Linked DNA regions of Homo sapiens. The protein of the gene in region 1 interacts with the protein of each later gene in a biochemical or structural test. Each region holds a gene or a part of one and is shown on either strand. Other genes may lie near its edges.

Evidence for each region. The genes of interacting proteins can lie anywhere in the genome.
Region 2: the proteins of MOB1A (region 1) and PTPN5 form a complex in vitro, tested with the Homo sapiens proteins (one study listed by BioGRID).

Annotation. Positions count from the first base shown.
Region 1 is NC_000002.12:74,168,880-74,175,902, forward strand, and holds part of MOB1A (MOB kinase activator 1A), read right to left. Parts: intron 3,874-7,023; coding exon 3,707-3,873; intron 1-3,706. UniProt on the Homo sapiens protein: Activator of LATS1/2 in the Hippo signaling pathway which plays a pivotal role in organ size control and tumor suppression by restricting proliferation and promoting apoptosis.
Region 2 is NC_000011.10:18,788,776-18,796,636, reverse strand, and holds the start of PTPN5 (tyrosine-protein phosphatase non-receptor type 5), read left to right. Parts: upstream 1-4,838; 5' UTR 4,839-5,112; intron 5,113-7,861. UniProt on the Homo sapiens protein: May regulate the activity of several effector molecules involved in synaptic plasticity and neuronal cell survival, including MAPKs, Src family kinases and NMDA receptors.

The DNA.
Region 1 (7,023 bases):
AGAAGAGCTATTCTCAAAACGTGGTCCAGGAATCCCCTATCTGAGGGAGGATCTGTAAGGTCAAACCATTTTAATTGTTCTTTTCACTCTTACTCTCTCAAGAGGGCACAATGGTGTTTTCCAGAGGCTCCATGATGTGTAATATCACAACAGACTGAATACAGAAACGGATATAAGAATCCAGGTGTCTATTAAGCCAGACATTAAATAAGATTTGCAAAAATATAAAACAATGCCATACTTCTCACTAAAATTTGTTATGGAAAATAGTCATTTTTCGTAAAAACATATTTATGGTAACATGTAATGGGTTTATTATTGTTATTTTAAAATGAATTTGGGCCGGGTGCAGTGGCTCACGCCTGTAATCCCAGCACTTTGGGAGGATGAGGCAGGCGGATCACTTGAGGCCAGGAGTTCTAGAACAACCTGGCCAACATGCCAAAACCCCGTCTCTACTGAAAATACAAAAATTAGCCGGGCATGGTAGCACATGCCTGTAATCCCAGCTACTCTGGAGACTGAGGTGGGAGAACTGCTTGAAGCCAGGAGGCAGCTGCAGTGAGCCAAGATCGTGACACTGCACTCCAGCCTGGGCGACAGGGCGATACTGTCTCGAGAGAAAATAAAAAATAAAAATAACTATTTACATCTTCTCAGTTTTAATTTCCAACAGAGTATCACGAGATATACCCAATATAATTAAAAGCTCTTTGGGGTTCTCAATAATTTTTTTTGTATTTTTTGTATTTTACCTTGTTTTTCCCCCGACTGGGTCTCACTCTGTTGCCCAGGCTGGAGTGCAGTGGTGCGATCTTGGCTCACTGCAACCCCCGTCTCCCAGGTTCAAGCAATTCTCCTGCCTCAGCCTCCTCAGTAGCTGGGATTACAGGTGTGTGCCACCACACCCAGCAAATTTTTGTATTTTTAGTAGAGCTGGTGTTTCACCATGTTGCCTAGGCTGGTCTCGAACTCCTGACCTCAAGTGATCTGCCAACCTCAGCCTCCCAAAGTGCTGGGATTACAGACATGAGCCACCATGCCCAGCTTGTATTTTACTTTTTTAATTAACACAGAATGGTACATATTTATGGGAATCAATAATTTTTTAAGAGGGTAAGTGGATCTGAGACCAAAAAATTTGAGAACTGCTGATCTACAGCAGTTAAGTCTCAAAGAAAAATCTAAGGCTGAAGGTCAATAAATGACTTCAGAATAACAGATGATAATCTGAATAAAGTTTTGTTTGTTTGTTTGTTTTTGTGTGTGTGTGTTTTTTTAAGATGGAGTCTTGCTCTGTCGCCCAGGCTATAGTGCAGTGGCACAACCTCAGCTCACTGCAACCTCCACCTCCCGGGAAGTGATTCTCCTGCCTCAGCCTCCAAGTAGCTGGGACTACAGGTGCGTGCCACCACACCTAGCTAAATTTTTGTATTTTTAGTAGAGATGGGGTTTTACCATGTTGGCCAGGATGGTCTCAATCTCCTGACCTCGTGATCCGCCTGCCTCGGCCTCCCAAAGTGCTGGGATTACAGGCGTGAGCCACCATGCCCGGCCCTGAATAAAGTTTTTTAAAAAAGGTTTTTTTTTGGCTGGGTTTTTTCCAGCACTTTGGGAGGCCATGGTGGGTGGATTACCTGAAGTCAGGAGTTCGAGACCAGCCTGGCTAACATGGCAAAACCTCGTCTCTACTAAAAATAGAAAAATTAGCCAGGTGTGGTGGCGGGCACCTGTAGTCCCAGCTACTCAGGAGGCTGAGGCAGAAGAATCACCTGAACACAGGAGGAGGAGGTTGCAATGAGCTGAGATCGCGCCAGCCTGTGCGACAGAGCAAGATTCCATCTCAAAAAAAAAAAAAAAAATTAGCAGGGCATGGTGGTGTGAGCCTGTAGTCCCAGCTACTCGGACGGGTGAGGTGGGAGGATCACTTGAGTCCAGAAGTTGAGGCTGCAGTGAGCTATGATCATGTCACTGCACTCCAGCCTGGGCAACAAAGCAAGACCCCATCTCTGAAGAAAAAAAAAGAGATTCAAGAAGCATACACACAGGCCTCTTTGGATCCTGATTTAAACAAAGCATAGATTTTTAAAGCAAAAAAATTTTAAAAAGAAAACATTTGGCCAGGTGCGGTGGCTCACGCCTGTAATCCCTGCACTTTGGGAGGCTGAGGCGGGCAGATCACTTGAGGTCAGGAGTTCGAGACCAGCCTGGCCAACATGGCAAAACCTCCTCTCTACTAAAAATACAAAAATTAGCCGGGCGTGGTGGCGGACACCTGTAATCCCTCAGCTACTGGGGAGGCTGAGGCAGGAGAATTGCTTAAACCCGGGAGGTGGAGGTGGAGGTTGCAGTGAGCCAAGATTTCGCCACTGCACTCCAGCTTGGGTGACAGAGCAAGACTCCATCTCAAAAAATAAAATAAAAAAAAAATAAAAAATAAAAGAAACATTTATGGGACAGTCATGAAAAATGTGAACACTGACCAGATATTTGATAAGTTAAAGGAGGATGGCATTGTCATTATCTTTACAAGTTCTTGTCTTTTAGACATACCTTACTGAAATATTTATAGATAAAACATCATGTCTGGGATTTGCTTAAAATAATCAGGGTGACATATAGAAGAAGAAAAATTGGTCACAAACTGATATTTGTTGGAGCTGGGTAATGGAATGAATACCTGGAATTCACTGTACTTAGTCTACTTTTATATGTTTGAAATTTTCCATTAAGAAGTTTTAGGCTGGGCGTGGTGGCTCATGCCTGTAATCCTAGCACTTTGGGAGGCCAAAGCAGGCAGATTGCCTGAGCTGAGGAGTTCAAGACCAGCCTGGGCAACATGGTGAAACCTTGTCTCTACTAAAATGTAAAAAATTAGCTGGGTGTGGTGGCGTGTGCCTGTAATCCCAGCTACTCAGGAGACTGAGACAGGAGAATGGCTTGAACCCGGGAGGTGGAGGTTGCAGTGAAGCAAGATTGAGCCATTGCACTCCAGTCTGGGCAACAGAGCAAGACTCCATCTCAAAAATAAATAAATAAATAAATAAATAAAAAGTTTTAAACTTTTTATTTAAACTTTTTATTCCTGGAACATCTGAAATCTCTAATTTAAACTTTATTACCCAGAAATGATATCATCTCAGAAATGAGAGACTCTCACATTCAAATCTCTAGCCTTAGCATATTGTCCCATGTCATGCACTTGTTCTCTTGAACTTAAAGTGACTTTCAGCTCAGATCCCTCCATTTTCTCCCAATCTCTCAATTCCCTCTGCCACTCTAAGTCACAACAATCAACTGTCCATATGAACTGCAATTGACTTTTCTGGATATGCAGGCTGATGAGTACTGCTGGGAGTGGAAGTAAAACTGTAGATGGATTTGCTACAAAGTCACAGACCACAACAGGCATAATCTTTTCATTTATCAATCTTTTATCTGACCTTACTCAGCTTTTCATACTATTCTTCTTAGAAATTGCCCAAAAGCACTCATCATTTCTCCTCAGCTCCCTCTACTCAACCTCACAAACTACCACCTAGTACTCTGAAAAGAGCAACATAGCTTTGGATGTATTTGTACTTAATGTTTCTTTACAGATAATTTGTTATATTAAAACAGTTCTAACTGTAAAAGAAAATTCATTAACAAAGAGATTTTAGCAAAACCTTTCTAGAAAACAGCAAAGTTACATTTTAAAACTTACTGTTCACAGCAATCCATTCATTGAGATCCTCTCCCTCAGGCAACATAACAGCTTGTCTCAGATTCCCACTTCCTAGAGTTGCTTCTGCATGTTTTAAGAGTTCATACTGATGAGATCCTTCAGGGATATTCTTCTTTGGTTTGAATGTTTTAGAAGAGCGGCTGCTGCTGTAAGATTAAAAGTGCAAGTATATGAATTTTTAAGACTGGAAGTAGAACAGGTAGAACAACATAATTTTAGGTATATAAAGTAGCCTGTAAAAATAAAATAAAAAATACTCTCTGGGCCAGGCATGGTGGCTCATGCCTGTAATCCCAGCACTTTGGGATCACCTGAGGTCAGGAGTTCAAGACCAGCCTGACCAACATGGTGAAACCACACGTCTACTAAAAATACAAAAATTAGCCAAGCATGATGGCGCACACCTGTAGTCCCAGCTACTTGGGAGGCTGAGGCAGAAGAATGGCTTGAACCTGGGAGGCAGAGGTTGCAGTAAGCTGAAATCGCATCACTGCACTCCAGCCCAGGTGACAGAGCAAGACTCAGTCTCAAAAAAAACAAAAACACTCTCTGAAAAATGCCAAGATAGGAAGATGATGATCACAATACAAGAATGCTTTTTTTCCCCTGCCTGTAAAAGCAAGATTAGCAGCACAATTCCACAAATAAGGCAATTTTACTATGCCCTCTGAAGAAGTCTGGTACAGAGAAACATCCTGGATTTTAGTTCTTGATCTGACACTAACTGTGTCTTCTTGAGAAACTGAACCTTCTTTTGGCCTCAATTTCGGTTTTTTTTTTTTTTTTTTTTTTGAGATGTAGTCTTACTCTGTCACCCAGGCTGGAATGTAGTGGCACAATCTCGGCTCACTGCAATCTCCACCTCCTGGGTTCAAGCGATTCTCCTGCCTCAGCCTCTCGAGTAGCTGGGATTATAGGCATGCACCACCACACCCAGCTAATTTTTTTTTTTTTTAGTAGAGATGGGATTTTGCCATGTTTGCCAGGCTGGTGTCGAACTCCTGACCTCAAGTGATACACCCGCCTCAGCCTCCCAAAGTGCTATAGAAAATGATGGGGCCATGCCGGGCGCGGTGGCTCACGCCTGTAATCCCAGCACTTTGGGAGGCCGAGACGGGTGGATCACGAGGTCAGGAGATCGAGACCATCCTGGCTAACACGGTGAAACCCCGTCTCTACTAAAAATACAAAAATTAGCCGGGCGTGGTGGAGGGCGCCTGTAGTCCCAGCTACACGGGAGGCTGAGGCAGGAGAATGGGGTGAACCCGGGAGGCGGAGCTTGCAGTGAGTCGAGATCGCACCACTGCACTCCAGCCTGGGCGACAGAGCGAAACTCCGTCTCAAAAAAAAAAAAAAAAAAAAAGAAAATGATGGGGCCATGGCTAGGTGCGGTGGCTCACACCTGTAATCCCAGCACTTTGGGAGGCCGAGGCAGTGGATCACGAGGTCAAGAGATTGAGACTATCCTGCCCAACATGGTGAAACCCCGTCTCCACTAAAAAACAAGTACAAAAATTAGCTGGGCGTGGTGGCACACGCCTGTAGTCCCAGCTACTCGGGAAGCTGAGGCAGGAGAATGGCTTGAACCCAGGAGGCGGAGGTTGCAGTGAGCCAAGCTTGCACCACTGCACTCCAGCTTGGCAACAGAGTGAGACTCCGTCTCAAAAAAAAAAAAAAAAGAAAAGAAAAGAAAAAAGAAAATGGTGGAGCCAAGTGCAGTCGCTCACACCTCTAATCCCAGCCATTTGAGAGACCAAGGCAGGAGGATTTCTTGAGCCCAGGAGTTTGAGACCAGCCAGGACAACATAGTAAGGCGGAATGGGGGGTGGGGAAGATAAAAAGAAAATGGCGCAGGGAGGTTTAGTTCAAAAATCCAGTATTCTATATCAAAATATTTGAGACGCCTTGAAAGCAAACCACAGTAAAAGAAACACTAACATCTTTAAGTTTATAATAGGGAAAATAAATGAGACAGGCACAACTCGTTATTGAGGAAAAAATGTTTTTATTCCTATCTCACACCATCCATAAAGTCTTCCTGCACAAAACTCAGAAACCTCAAAGAAAAAGTGGACAGATTTCAAATAGTATCAATTAAAACTTTCATAACAGAGCAAAAAGACAAGTAACCAAATAAAAGTACTTGTAACATATATTACAAAGGATGAACTGGATAATAGAGGGCTTCTGTAACTCGTTAAGAATATAAGGAATCCTTTAGAAAAATAGGCTAAGGAGATGAATAGGCAATTCAGAAGTATGACAATCAATGAGCATGAGAAAAACTGTTCAATTAAAGTAAGATTTATTTTTTCCCTAATCTGAATGTCAAAAGTTTAAATGATTACATTAAATGTGGACTAGGGTAGGGGCCCCCAACCCCAAGGACACAGACTGGAGCCCACAGAAGGAGATGAGCAGTGAGCAAGCAGCAAAGCTTCATCTGTATTTACAGCTGCTCCCCATTGCTGGCATTACCACCTGAGCTCCACCTCTTGTCATATCAGCAGAGGCATTAGGTTCTCACAGGAGCGTGAACACTACTGTGAACTGTGCATGCAAGGGATCTAAATTGCATGTGCCTTATGAGAATCTAAAGCCTGATGATCTGTCACTCTCTCCCATTACCCCCAGATGGGATTGTCTAGTTGCTCAGAGCTCCCACTGATTATACATTATGATGAGTGGTAGAATTATTTCATTATATATTCCAATGTCATAATAGAAATAAAGTGCACAATCAATGTAATGCATTTGAATCATCCAGAAACCATCTCCCCAACCAGATCTGTGGAAAAATTGTCTTCCACAAAACTGGTCCCTGGTGCCAAAAAGGTTAGGGACCACTGGACTAGGGTACAGAGAAACTAGTATTTTAATACACTACTGGTGAAAGTATAAAGTGTAACATTTTGGGAGGGCAATATGGTAGTATCTATTAATACTGAAAAGCTCCTCAAGCCATCCATTCTACTTCTAAATATCTCCTCTAGATATGGATAAGAATTTTTTTCCAAGATTGTTTTTAATAGGGAGAAACCTAGAAGCAATCCTCAAGTTTATCAGTAGAGGATTGAATTAAAGTATGGTACATCCATATCATGGAATATTGTATAGAAGTTAAGAAAACCAGACAGAGTACACGTATTCACAGGGAAAGATCTAATACATGGTTAAACATAATACACAACCAAACGTACAGCAGGAGCCCATTTTGTAAATACATAGAAAATATCAAAAACTAAACTCATCAAAACTGGTGATTACTTCTAGGAAGAGGAATGGAATAGAACTAT
Region 2 (7,861 bases), on another chromosome or scaffold:
GTATAAGCTTGCAAAAAAAAAAAGTGACATACTTTGCTACTTCAGATATACTAGTCTGTTTCTTCCCCTCTGAGATACTTATTTCAGCATTCAACAAAAATTTATTGAGTACCTACTATGTACCAGGCATTGTCCTGGACACTTAAGATATATCAATGAGCCTAACGGATGCAGATGCCCTGTGGACCTTGTATTCCAGTGGGAAAAAAACAGATATTTAACAGATATTAAAGGGTGAACATACAAAATAGATAAACTACCTAATCTATAGCTCGTAAATAAATTTATTAATATAGAATATATGTCATAAGAAATATATAAAATATGAGATAGATATTATAACATAGTTTATAAAGAAATTATCCAGTACATTAGAAGGTAAAATGTGTCATTATAAAAGAAAAGGAGAGATTGGGACTCCTGAAGGGAACGGGAGAAGGCAGGCTCTGACGTATTAGGTAGAGAGGTCAGGGGAGGCCTCAATGAGAAAATGACAGTGGAGCAAAAACTTGAAGGATATAAAGGCATTAGTTCTATGTAACAGATTGTTTCTTTTTGGCATCCCAAATGATCAGAACCAAATTTGAGGTTCAAGCACAGTACTCTAGAGGCCCCTGTGGTCTGTACGTTTGTAATCTTTTGTCCTCGAGAGGCAGGATAGGACAGTGGTTAAGGGTATCGGTTCCACTGTCAACCTGGATTCAAATACTGCCTCTACCACTTACCAGCTACGTGACTTAGGGCATCATATTTCATGTCTCCCAGCCTGAGAGAAATGCCTCCCTATGCTTCAAAATGAAGATAATAATAGTACTTACCTCACATGGCTCTTTTAAGGATTAAATGAAATAATGTACACAAATTCCTTTGCACACAAGAATAAACTCAATAAAAAAACAGCTGTGATTATTGAGCTTTGGTCATGTCACTCAACGTTTATTTACATTTTCTTTGGTCCTGATTCTTTATCCTCATTGATATTTTAACATTGTTTTATGGATCCTGCCCCTTTGGTAAGCTACTTCAAATCCTTTGTGGATTGGGGTAAGTTATAAGTAAGTAAATAAATACATAAATAAAAATCTGGATAGGGGGACATTTTCACTGAAGCAAAGCATTTCATTACCAAGACAGTGAATTGCAAGTGGGCCAAAAGCAAGAAAGATGGACTCTAATCTCTAACAGTCCACCAAGAACCACCAGTAAAACACTCTCTGGTTTCTCAGACCATCTTTTTCTCCCCATCTCCTCTTTCTTAAATCCCTCTTCTTCCCTCTATCATGAAAGGGTAAATGAGTTACACAAAACGGCTCAAGAAGACTCCTAAGTCGTCACAACCTCACAACTATTTCGTTGCCATGGGCCTCACAGGACTCTTCCTCATCAGAGAAGAGAAAGGAAATCAAAGCAGTCACTTTCCGTGTGTTGGCAGGGTGCTGGTTAAGTGAACAGAGTCAGACATAAGCTAGAATCTCGTTTAGTGAGCTCTGTGGCCTTGGGAAAGCCCCTGGACCTTTCTGTGCCTCCTATTCCTCCTTGGTAATAGCAGTCCCTCCTAAGGTGTTTTGGCAGATCAAACGAGAGAATGCAGGGAAGCAACGTGGATAGCTTATTTTTAAAGCCCTCAGAAAATGCTAGATTTCCTTCCTGAACTGCACCCTGGGGTAACACTCTTCAATAAGAGGGTGTATAGGGTGGAAACAGGGTGAGGAGACTAGTTTAGGTATATCCCTATCTGACAGAAACTCAATACAAGAAACAAAAGAAGAAAGATCTTTGTTGTTGCTGTTGCCTTACTACTTTCTAGAGGTATTGTCATACTTCTTCCTTCCCATAGCCCTTTAAGATGGGCATTATTATCCACATGTGACAGCTGGGGCTGGGCTTTGAACCCAGAGCACACAGCTAGGAATGTTTGCGAGGCACCGCTAGCTTTCCGAAGTTGCCTTTACAAGGGCAGCCATTAGCCTCCACCACAGGACATCAGAGGCAGCACTGACAGGAACCTGTGAGGCCCCAGTGCACCTGGAGTACCATGACTCTGTGACCCCTGAGCTGGGGACATCAAGAATCTGGGCCAGGCTGATGCCACTGAAGCTCTCTAAGCCCTACTTTCTCCCCTTCCTTCCATCAGCCCAAAGGGCTTTCATGTTAAGGCATCCCTGCTTCTGTGACCACGTGCTATGGAACTGGCTAGATCTGAATTTGAAACACACACCTCTTAAGTGACCTTAAGTAACTCACTTATTCCTTCTGCTTCCTCTACTGAAATTGGGGATGTCAAAAGGCCTACCTCCCACAGATGTCATGAAGATTCAATAGAGCAGTGCCTTGAGAAAACACAAAACACTACCTGGCACATACTAAAGTGCCCATGTATAGTAGCTGCTATTGTTCAACTGATGCAGCCTGGAGAAATCAGCCTCATGCCGAACCATGGTGATGATGCTCTCGGGGGGTAGGGAGCAGGTCCTGGCGTACAGGCTGAAATGTCTACTCACACTTCCACACAACCCAAGCAGTATGGCCTTTTTACCCAATATATAATCCTCCCCCACCCCACAGGAAACTCCTTGAGGGCAACACAGGGACCTAATTGGGTCTAGGTCTCTAGGTCTTTTCCTAGGGGAAAAAAAAAAAAAAAAGACCAATTGAGGCCCAGCCTAGGGCCTCCCAATCAGTGCCGTTGATCCACAAACATGTGCTGATGGGCCCTTCTGTGCTGGGAACTGGGGAAAGGGAAGACACCCCGCCCTACTTTCCAGGAGTTCATAGTGCACCTGGGGAAAAAGAGAAGGAACCACTATCACAGCAGACAGAAAGTAATGAGAGCTGAGTGTCCCTGGAAATGTGGGGAGAAGGAGGTGGTATTTAAGCTGGACCTTAAAAATTAGTCAAGACATGGGAGGGATGGCATTCCAGACTGAACAGGGACAACGTGAACAAAGGCCTAGAGACAGGAAAACACAGGGTTTGTTTAAAAAACAGATTAGTGAGGTGAGGCTGAAGGATTGGGATGGGAGGGGATTGAGATGGGAGCTGGCAATGAAGCCAGTGAGCCTCAGGGGCAGGGAACAGAAATAAAAGTCATAGCTGCATGGAGAAAATGAGGAGGGAGGGCCAGCAACTTTAAACAGGATAGTTACAGCAATTATCTTAGAAGCGACACATTGAGCCTGGGCAGGGTGGCTCACGCCTGTAATCCCAGCACTTTGGGAGGCCAAGACGGGCGGATCATGAGGTCAGGAGTTCGAGACCAGCCCGGCCAACATGGCGAAACCCCGTCTCAACTAAAAATACAAAAATTAGCTGGGCATGGTGGCGGGCGCCTGTAGTCCCAGCTACTCGGAAGGCTGAGACAGGAGAATCGCTTGAACCCAGGAGGCAGGGGTTGCAGTGAGCTGAGATGGAGCCACTGCACTCCAGCCTGGACGACAGAGCAAGACTCCGTCTCGGGGGCGGGGGGGTGGGGGGAGTGACACTTTGAAGAGGTAAAGGAGTAGCCGTGTGACTATCAGAGGGAAGAGTTTCCAGGCAGACAGACCAGCAGTGCAAAGGTCCTGAGGCCACAGGGCTGCCACGCCGATGATGCATTAAAAAGGCCAATGTGACTGGAGCGTGGGAGAAGGGGGAGGGTGGTAGAAAGAGAGGTTAAAGAGCTAAAAAGGAGCCAGTTCCTGAAGGGCTTTGCAGGTCATGAGGGGCCTTTAACTTTCCCTTGGATGAAATGGAGTGCTAGTGTAGGATTTCCAGTAAAGGAACGACGTGCTCTGACTTAAATTTTAAAGGATCGCCTTGACTGCTGTGTAGAGAATCAGCTGCAGGGGGCCAAGGGTGGAAGCTGGGAGACCAGTAAAGAGACTATAATGGAAATCCCGGGGGGCGGGGGTGGATGGTGGCTGGAACCAGGGTGGTAGCTACGTGGTGGCTCGCCTCTGATTCCCCGTGTAAAAAATGGAGTTTAGGATCCCTGCCCTGTGTGCAGCCCACAGCCTCAAGCCCCCATGGGGATGGAATGCCGGAAACCTCTGGCCAGCGCACTAGCAGCCTGGAGAATACGGAAGATTGTGGCAGGATTGTGGGGCACATGGGCAGCTCCCTGCTCGTCCGGGCCCCTGGTGCCCACGAGAAAACCAAAACAGGTGCGTGCCCCGCGCCGCACGTCAGGAGGGCAAGACTCAGTGGAGGGAGGGGCTGTCCACTCGCTCTAGCTCCCCAGAGGCTGAACAGGGAGAACTGGGAAAAAGGACGCCTCCTCAGCGTCCTAGAACGAGTCCTCGGCACCTGGTATTGCATGCGCCCTAGTATGGGGCCGCTCCACTTGCGCAGGTGTTGGCAACATGCGGGGAGCGCCACGGCATGCCCCCAATGAGCCGACTCCCTCCCCCAACTCTGCCCCCTTTGTCTCGCTGGCCCCTACTCCTTCTGTCTGCCTGTCTGTCCCGTCCCAGGTTCAGCGCGCACGGCCCTGCCGGGGTCCCTCTGGCAGTTGCCGTAGCCGCGCGGCCCGACCCGGGGCTCCCAAGAGGAGAAAAAATCATGAATGAAATGGATGCGCTGCTCCCACTCCTCCGCCCTCCTTGTCCAAGCAACCTTGGCATGGGGGCGACGACTGCGGAGACTCCGCGCAGAGTTGCTCGGGAGAGGGAGGCACCTGAGATGAGGTCAGGGGTTAAGGGTCTGTGATCCGGCCCCCTTCGTGCCCCGGGAGCAGGCCGCTCTCCCGGTCCCCCGCCCCGCCAGCCCTGCGCAATTCCCGGCGAGCGGCGGAAGCCCGCCCGGGGGCGGGGCGGAGCCGGGGCTGGGGGGTGCCAAACCCACCCGGCGGCTGCGCCAGCGACTCTGCAGCTGAAGCGCATTTGGTGAGGCGGTCGGGCGAGGGAGCGCGCACGGAGCGCGGGACGGAGCGCCAGGCGGACGGACCGAAGGACGGAGGCACCGAAGGACGGACGCCCCCGCACACGCAGACGCACAGAGCTCGGCGCGGCCCCCGTCGCATACACACTGGCACAGACACAAGCAGGGACACACGCAGACACACGCACACTCGCGCGCGCATCCTCCCGCCAGCCTGCCCGCCTGCTCGCCGGCGCCCGGAGCCCGCTCTGGCCGGTAAGTGCGGCGCCTCCGTCTGCGCCTTTGTGTGCGGAGCCGGAAGGTGGAGGGCGCGGGTCCCTCCTTCGGGCGGCCCCGCAACTGACACCTTCTCCAGCCCTCCCGGCCGAGGAGCCGGCGCCCGCCCCCGCCACGCCCCCGTGGGGCTCTGGGCGCCCGCATGCTGGGGGAGGGGTCCCCCATGCAGAGGAGGGGGCTTGTCGCTTGGTAGCCGGGAGGGAGCGGCAGCCACTCCCCACGAAGCCCGTGCGCGGTTCCGGGGAGGAATCGGGATAGTGGTTTGGGGTCTGAGCCTCTGCGGCCGGCGGAGGCTGGTGCGCGGCTCTGGGCTGCATCGCCTCTCCGGAGCCTGAAGCCCCTGAGGGAGATTGGAAATCGCCGCTAGCCTTCTGGCCTCTAAAGCGCGGCTCCCAGCCTTCCCATTGCTTCGCCTCCACCGACCCTTTAGCTTTAGCCTCCCGCGTCCCACCCTCCCCTAGAATACAAGCTTAGCGCGCTCCCCTCCCCCAGCATGCTGCTTGTTTCTGGTTGAGGCCCAGGCTCCTGCAAAACCGGAGATTGCCCGGGTCAGAGCCTTGGGAGGCTTACCTTATCAAGGATCACAGGGCTTAGAAGATCAGGGCCAGACGAATCCTGGGAACTTATTCAACCTTCTCATTTTACAGATGGGGAAACTGAGGCCCAGTAAGGTGGCGGACCAAGGTCACCAGAGAGTTAGTGGTAAAGCTTTCATTAGAATCTAGGGTTCCTGGTTTTCATACTCATGCTCCCCTCCTACACAACTAGATCCCACCCACATTGAAGCCCCAGAACCCCAAAATTCACCTGAGTGTACCACGAAAGTGTGTAATTCCAGCCCTGCCCCACTTGGAGGGGCAGGTGCCATTCATTTTCTACCTTCCCTACCTATGGTACCAAAAAAAGGGGAGAGGGGGCTTTAATTTGCTTCCTTCAACCTCAAAGGAGAGCTCTCATAACACTCAAACACTCCGGGTTTGGGATTCGTTTGGGAGAATGAAGAAGCCCAGGACCTGAGATCAGATTCCCAGGCGTTAGTCCTGATCCACCCAGGACACACTGAGCCTGAGTGTCCTCAGTTGGACCAGGTGATGTGGCATCCCAGGATTCGTCCTCTTCTCCACTGTGTCCTGACTGCATGCCCTCCCAGTCACCCTTCCCTCCCGCTTGAGGGCCAGATCTTCTACTCCAACCAGGCCCCTGTAGTCATCCCTTTGCGGAGGTCCCCACCTCTTTCTCCTTGGGGCTCGTTAAGGGCAGCCTCTTGGTGCTGCTGACAAAGCTGCTGGGGAAGCTTGAGTTACAATCACACCAGGTTCGGGTGGTTTCTCAGCACGCGGCTCCCTCAAGGGCAGCCAGGTGTCCCCAGAGCTGAGCCTGATGCCTGGTGCAGAGAGGGTGCCCCGAGAGATGTGTTGAAGGAGTACAAGCATAGACGGATGGTGAAGGGATGGAGTCAGTCACCTTGGAGGAGACTGGATGGAATAGTTGGCAAGGAGGGCAGTGTTCAGTCTCCAGGGACCTGAGGTTCTGGTCTCAAGAACTTCCTTTTTTTATTTTATTTCCATAGATTTTTGGGGAACAGGTGGTATTTGGTTTCGTGAGTAAGTTCTTTAACGGTGATTTGTGAGAATTTGGTGCACCCATCACCCAGAGTATACACTGAACCCAATGTGTAGTCTTTCATCCCTCATCCACCTCCCACCTTTCCCCCAAGTCCCCAAAGTCCATTGTGTCATTCTTATGCCTTTGCATCCTCATAGCTTAGCTCTCACTTATGAGTGAGAACATACAATGTTTGGTTTTCCATTCCTGAGTTACTTCACTTAGAATCATAGTCTCCAGTTCCATCGAGAACTTCCTTTTTGAGGGGGGTGAGCAGCTCATCATGGAGCTGAGCCAGGGTGGCCAAGTGGCAGAACTTCAGGGGCTGCCACTGACAGTGTAGTCCATGTAGATGGCATTGGCTATGAAGTTTACACAGACTTCATAATGAATGGTGGCCCCTGGGTTTTTGCCATGTAGGGATTTCTGCCTTGAGAGTGAAGGGATCTGGATTCCAGTCCCAGTCTCTTCCTCACTGGCTGTACGGTGTCAGTATATAACCCTTTTGGGTCTCAATTTCTCCATCCAAAAAAATAACATCATTGGATTGATGATGTTATGAACTATTTGGCGGTGGGGTGGGAGCACGTATTTATGTAACTGCTATGGGCTTCTTTTGCTTTATGAAGGAATAATTTCTGACTCAAGAATGATGTATGTAGAGTACTTAGTACAGTCCCTAACACATAGAAAATGCTCAGGAATTGGTAGCTAGTAATTCCACTAGGACTCCAGCTTTGTGGATATACCCTATACTTCTTCCTTTCTTCAGATCATCCAAGGACATGGGATTCTTAAGGCCTCAAAGTCCTCCTCCCTCAAAAAATTCCTTTCCCCCTGACCTATTCCTGGACTTCAGGCTCAGCCAGCATAAAACATCTGTGAAAACTCCCTGGGAGGATCAACACTTTTGTTTATTCAACCTTTTGTACGTTAGCGTAATAGAATTTCATAATTAATTTGTATGTAGTGTCAAAAGCTCTTCCTATACTCTGTCACTTACTCCTCATAAGACATCCGTGACAATAGTGTTATCATCCTCATTTTGCAGATAGGGAAATTAAGGCTTGGATTTTCACTTATCTAAGGGTGCATACCTCAAAAGTCTCAGATCCAGAGAGCT